Linked DNA regions of Homo sapiens: region 1 is linked to region 2. Evidence: fine-mapped expression QTL. Tissue or cell type: transverse colon. Region 2 holds a variant in brackets; the other region holds the start of a gene. All regions are shown on one strand. Distances are from middle to middle.

Region 1 (2,754 bases), 38 kb before region 2:
TAATCGTGTTCCTGGAGGAGAGAAAGACATAGTGATCTCCGATTGTATGTGAGCCAAGGATGCTTCCCAATGTCCAGCTCTCTGGAGTTCCTGGGACTGCAGTTTTCCAGCCCAGTTTCAATAGCCACCCTGGATAGGCTGTCTGCCTGGTCTTTTTTTGTTTTTTGCAGCCTTGGCTGAACCAACCCTTGGCGAGGCGACGCGGAGCCGGTAGTCTAGCCTATCTGCAGAGCAGTGCTCGCCCAGGAGAGGCCACAGAAGGGGCGTGCACCCGCGAGAGCGCGCAGGGCATTGCCTCGGTTGAGTGCGCCCGGGTGCGCAGGGCGCACCACTAGACGAGTTCAGGGTCCCTGGCGCTCAGCCCCTTGACGGGTGAGGCTAGGATCCCGCGGCGGCTGCAGCTACAATCAATGCTCTCTCTGTCCCGGGGTGGAGCTGCTGCCCTGAGCCAGATCCAGGAGGAAGGGGGGTCGGCATCTGGCTTTTGAATCGAGGACTCTTGTTTGAGATGTTGTGCGGGCTTGGGATCTAGGAGGGGAAGGGGGAGCAATGGCCAGAGCAAGAAAGGGAAGAAATGGGTCTGGGGCTGGAGAGGGTAGAAGAGCCAGGGGAGGGGTGGAGAGCGGCTGGGGAGGTGCAGTCTGTATTCATTTCCTCTGGTCTGTGTCCTCAGGCGGCTCCAGACCCAGAGAAGGTCTGCTCTTCCTCCCTCTCAAGCCCCCGGCGGGCCTCATCCTTAATCCATTTCCGTATTCCAATCCTCTCCTTTCCCAAATGAGTCCCCCTTCCCCCTCTCTCATCCTTTTCCAGCTCTCCCCTCCCCCGTCCGCCCGCCTTCCACCCAGTCCCCGCCTGCGGCACTGCGGCTTCCTTCTCCTCCGGTGCCCCGCACCCAGCCCGCCGCGAGGTCACCCGGCAGATTCCCTCTAGCTCGCCATCCTCCATCCTCTCCCCGCAGTTTCATCCGTCCTCCTCCCCGCCTCTGCGAGCTGGGTTTGGGGACGTCTGGGTGGAATGTAGACCCACAGGCTGTCCTTGGTGCCCTTCCTCCCTGTTCTCCAGCGCCCCAGCCCCAGACACCAGTCCCCCAGCGGGCGAAAGCCCGGGAGCGCCTTCCCCGAAAGACATCAGGGTGCCACGCGGCCCCTGCCCTGCAGAAGCATCCCCCTCCCGCCCCTGCCTGGAAAGCAGGCCCCTCCCTAAGCTCTGCGCCCTTCTTCCCTGGGCGCCCTCGGACCGTGGCCCGAAGCCTAGTGTTGGGAAGTCTTGCATGGGCGCCTGACGGCGGTCCCCGAGCCCCAGGTCCCACCGGCTCCAGTTCCCACCTGGACTGGGGTCTTCCGCTGCTGCAGCCTCCTCCAGACGCGCCGCCGCCTCCGGTTGCTGCACCCAGCTCGGAGCCCGCAGTTTTCACCGGGGATGGAGGAGAGGGGGAGCGGGGAGCCGGGGGCTCAGCCAATCAGAGGCGGAGATTGGGGGAGAAAGGACGGCAGGGTGGGGTGGGGGGTGGGGAAGGAAGAGAAGGCGGTCCCGCATTGGTGTGAGAGTGGCAGGTTGCGGCGGAAGGGGGCCCTCACCCTGTGGCTGGCAGGCCTGGCCAGGGACGGGAGGGTTCGGGACCCCGGGGATCAGGGTGCGGCAGCCCAAAGAACATTATCCTCCTCCCTGAGCCCCGCAATGGTTGTTCCCCTTTTAAGGCTTTAACCCTTTCTTCTGACCTATTCTTCAGGAGTCTGTGGGAAAACCAAAGTGTAAGAGGTGCAGGATGCAGGCCGGGAGCGCCCACGCCTCCACATTTCCTTTTCAGCTGGAGCCCACCTCCTCCGGAGCCTCCAGTGAGAAGTTTTGGAATATTCCAGTCTTTCTGAAAGGAAGCTGGTTGGGTGTTTTTCAGTGTTGGAGCAGCCCTTCGGAAGCGAGGCAGGTGCTGGACCCACCCTGTCCGTCCCTGGTCCCCAGCCCCATTTCGCCCCCTCATCTATTCCAGAGCACCCAGCCCTTCAGGGGGCTGCAGGCGCTTTTTGCTCTGGGCATTACGTCTTCTTCAGCCCCTGGGCTGGCACCTTCTGGTCCAGACAGCTGGAAGGTTCTTCTGGCTTTCCTGAGTACAGTCTGCTTGTTTGGTCTTCAGACCAGGAAGGGAGTGTTGCCTTTTAGCAGGCACTGTGCTGGGCACATTACATTCATGGCGACCTTTAACCCATGGCCGCCTGCTGGGTTCATCCCATCTCAATCCTCACCTCCTGTCTTGGCTGGTAAGTGGGAGAGCTGGAGAACTGACCTGGGCTATGGACCCCAGCTCTCAAGGGTGAGCCATTCCTCTTGCTCATCCCTGCCTAGTGGGAGAAGAGAGAGAGGAACTCTGGGAAAGAGGAGGAGACAGCACAAAAAGGACTGAGTCGAGGCCAACTCCTGATCACCTGGGGCACTCCTGATAACCCACCGATTGGATGTCACCAGAAGCCCTAGGCTCATTTTTAGAGACAGTGCTGATGACTTTCTCTCACTCACAGGTGTAGTGAATTTTTTTGAACTAACGTTTATTTGATTGATTTGTATCCTGCCAGCCTCTTTATGAATTCTGATCACGACATTCTGTGGGCCTCCCCAATGTCTGCCTGCCTGTTCTCCTATTTCTTCATGGAAGTCAGCCCTGGCACCTTCCCTGCAGTTTCTGATACTGCAGTGGCACTGTTGGAAGCCACTGTTGGAAGCTTGCAAGTGGGAGGAGATTCGCTTGGTTTCCCAGCATTT
Region 2 (2,754 bases):
GAGAAGCAGGAGAGGCCACATCATGCAAGCCGAGGGCATGGCTGTGGCTGGCACCGGGCACTGCGGAGCAGTCGGCAGGAAGCTTGTGTCACTGGACCAGGCTCCAAAGGTCATGGCAGTCTTTGTGGTGCGGCTGGAAAAGCAAGGCCCAGAGGGCACTGGACAGACTGTTGAGAAGATTCAAGGTCATGGGAGGAGGACTTAAAAAATGAAGTGCTGTGTGCAGGTTCTACGCCATGGGGAAGGAGCCATTGGCTGAGAGTGGCTTTGAGGTGGGGAGAGGGAGAGGAGGGAGGCAAGAGGCAAAGGCTGAAGGTTTCGTGGGCGGGTCAGGCAGGGAGTTAGTCGGGGCTGCCTGGAGGGTCCCAGTTGTCTCTGAAGGAGGAAAGACTTGAGCTGGAGCTTGACGGAGGGAAAGCATCAAACAGACAGGCCAAAGGACATCCTGGATTAGGATGAGGAGGAAAAGGAGGGACGAGGTGTGGAGGTGGAAAATTGGCTAGAAAGGGAGGGGATGAATTGCAGAGAGATGGCCTGACAGCGCAGGATGAGCACGGTAGCGAGTGATGGAGAATAGCGTGTCGCTGGCCAGGTCTGGTCACTCCCGAAGGGCTGGGGCCTTGCAGGCCAGGAGGTGGCTCTGTGGGCCGGAGAGCCCTCCCAGCGCACTCAGGTGGGGTGGCTGCCACAGGAGATGGGCGGGGCCCCTTCTTACAGACAGAAGGCAGGGTCCGAGTTGTTCAAATGGGCCCTGATAGTTTGCTTTTCTGCCTTCTCTCTCCTTCTGGATTTGTGGTTTGTTTGTTTTGGTTTCCCCCCCACCACTTTCCCCTGCACCCCACAGTCTCTGGAGACTGAGGCAGGGTCTCCATGTTGCAGTTATATCTCGTGTATTTAATTTGGCCCCCTTAATAAACAGAGGGTGGGGCAGAGGCTGTGAGAGAAGGACAGAATTAAAACCACATCCTGGAGTAATGAGATCTCCGTTTGGCCTCCTTCCCTTCTTTTCCCACTCCCAGGCTCTGCTCCTCTACCCTCCTTTCTTGGAGAGAAACACAGCTCTGCTTGCCTAATGGAAGTCAGTGGGAAAATTCTGTTCACATTCCATATATAGTCGTCACTCAGTATGTGTGGGGGATTAGCTCCAGTACCCCTTGCAGATACCAAAATCCACAGATGTTCAAGTTCCTGATATAAAACGGTGTCGTGTTTGCATGCAACCTCCTGTATACCTTACATCACACATCCTCCTGTATACTTTAAATAATCTCTAGATTACTTAGAATACCTAATACAATATGAATGCTATGGAAATAATTGTTATACTGTATTGTTTACAGAATAATGACAAGGAAAAAAGTCTGTACATGTTCAGTACAGATGCAATTTTTTCCCAAATATTTTCAATCCTTGGTTGGTTGAATCTATGGACACAGAATCCACGGATATGGGGGCTGACTGTATAACCTTGTTGGCATAAACCCATTCCACGGTGAGAGAACTTTGAGGAGTGGAATCTGTGTATGAATATATTTATAATCATGTTTGGATGACTGCAGGCTTGCTCTTGGGCAGAGCAGAGTTGGGCTGTAAAAAAGGATGGGAAGATTTTTCCCATCAATGGAAAACTCCCTGTTTGCCCCGACCCTTAGAGAAGGGAATGGAAGAAA[G/A]CTCTGAGTGATGTGGCCTTTGGGAGACCTCATGGTAGGGAAAAGCCAGAGAGCAGATCTGAGCTGTAGGGAGATGATCTGTACAGGAACTGACTCGTAATAAAATCAAATCTCAATTCTCCAGGCTTAGCATTTACGACTCAAGATTGGATTCTGAAGTCTCATTTGTCTTCCGGGATTCTGCTCCCCTTGGCTCTCTGATACAGGGCTCTATGGCCACTCCCTGCTGGCTTTAGGTGGCTGGCCCAGCCCAGGTTTCACCTGGGATCATTGCCTCAATTTCCCTAAATACAGCTGAGTCAAGATTGGGGTACTTAACACAATATTGTTCAAGGTTCAGGAATGACAAAGGGGAAATAAACATAGGAAGTAACATGAAACCAGCCCAGGTGCCAGGGGCAAGGACAGCTGCTTCTTGTTCCCCCTCCTGCCCAGGGCTCTCTCCCTGGCTCTGGCCCATCACAGAGACCACCTTCTTCCACCTCTCTTGTCCCTGGGACATAGCTTTGCCTTGGGGGCCCCAGAGAACAATTTCCTCAGACAACATCAAATAAGCCTGTAGAAGGGAGAAACACAGACAGTGACACAAGCTTGGCTGGCCACTGCAATCCTTCTTTAGCTGTTTTCCACTCCCCAGCTTCAGTGGCACCAGAGGGTCATGAGGCCATTTGTTAGGACAAGGCATTGTTTGCATCTTGATTTTTTTTTTTTTTTTTGATACGGAGTCTTGCTCTTGTTACCCAGTCTAGAGTGCAATGACACGATCCTGGCTTACTGCAATCTCAGCCTCCTGGGTTCAAGAGATTCTTCTGCCTCAGCCTCCCAAGTAGCTGGGATTACAGGCACATGCCACCATGCCCAGCTAATTTTTGTATTTTTAGTAGAGACAGGGTTTCGCCATGTTGGCCAGGCTGGTCTCGAACTCCTAACCTCAGTTGATCCTCCTGCCTCAGCCTCCCAAAGTGCTGGGATTACAGGCTTGAGCCACCATGCCTGGCTTTTTTTTTTTTTTTTTTTTGAGACAGGGTCTCACTCTGTCACCCAAGCTGGAGTACAGTGGCACAATTTCAGCTCACTGCAACCT

Which allele goes with the higher level. Positions count from the first base shown, and alleles are read on the strand shown. Sizes are in standard deviations (SD) of each study's normalised expression.
As copies of G replace A in region 2, the expression in transverse colon of the gene that starts at base 1,385 in region 1 goes up (small effect, 0.14 SD a copy in GTEx).

The links. PIP is the estimated chance that this variant, and not a neighbour inherited with it, causes the effect.
Region 1: THY1 starts here. The variant in region 2 is fine-mapped to the expression of THY1 in transverse colon (GTEx, PIP 0.97).

Annotation. Positions count from the first base shown.
Region 1 is chr11:119,421,788-119,424,541 of GRCh38, forward strand. It overlaps THY1 (Thy-1 cell surface antigen), which reads right to left and starts at 1,385. Exons shown (of 4, transcript NM_006288.5): 1 at 1,326-1,385. The region is part of intron 2 of USP2-AS1 (USP2 antisense RNA 1); the gene reads left to right. RefSeq lists enhancers at 131-697, 698-1,263.
Region 2 is chr11:119,459,684-119,462,437 of GRCh38, forward strand. All of the region lies in intron 2 of USP2-AS1 (USP2 antisense RNA 1), which reads left to right. Among named protein-coding and RNA genes, the nearest start is that of THY1, 38 kb to the left of the region's middle. The variant G/A (reference allele first, on the strand shown) is at 1,671.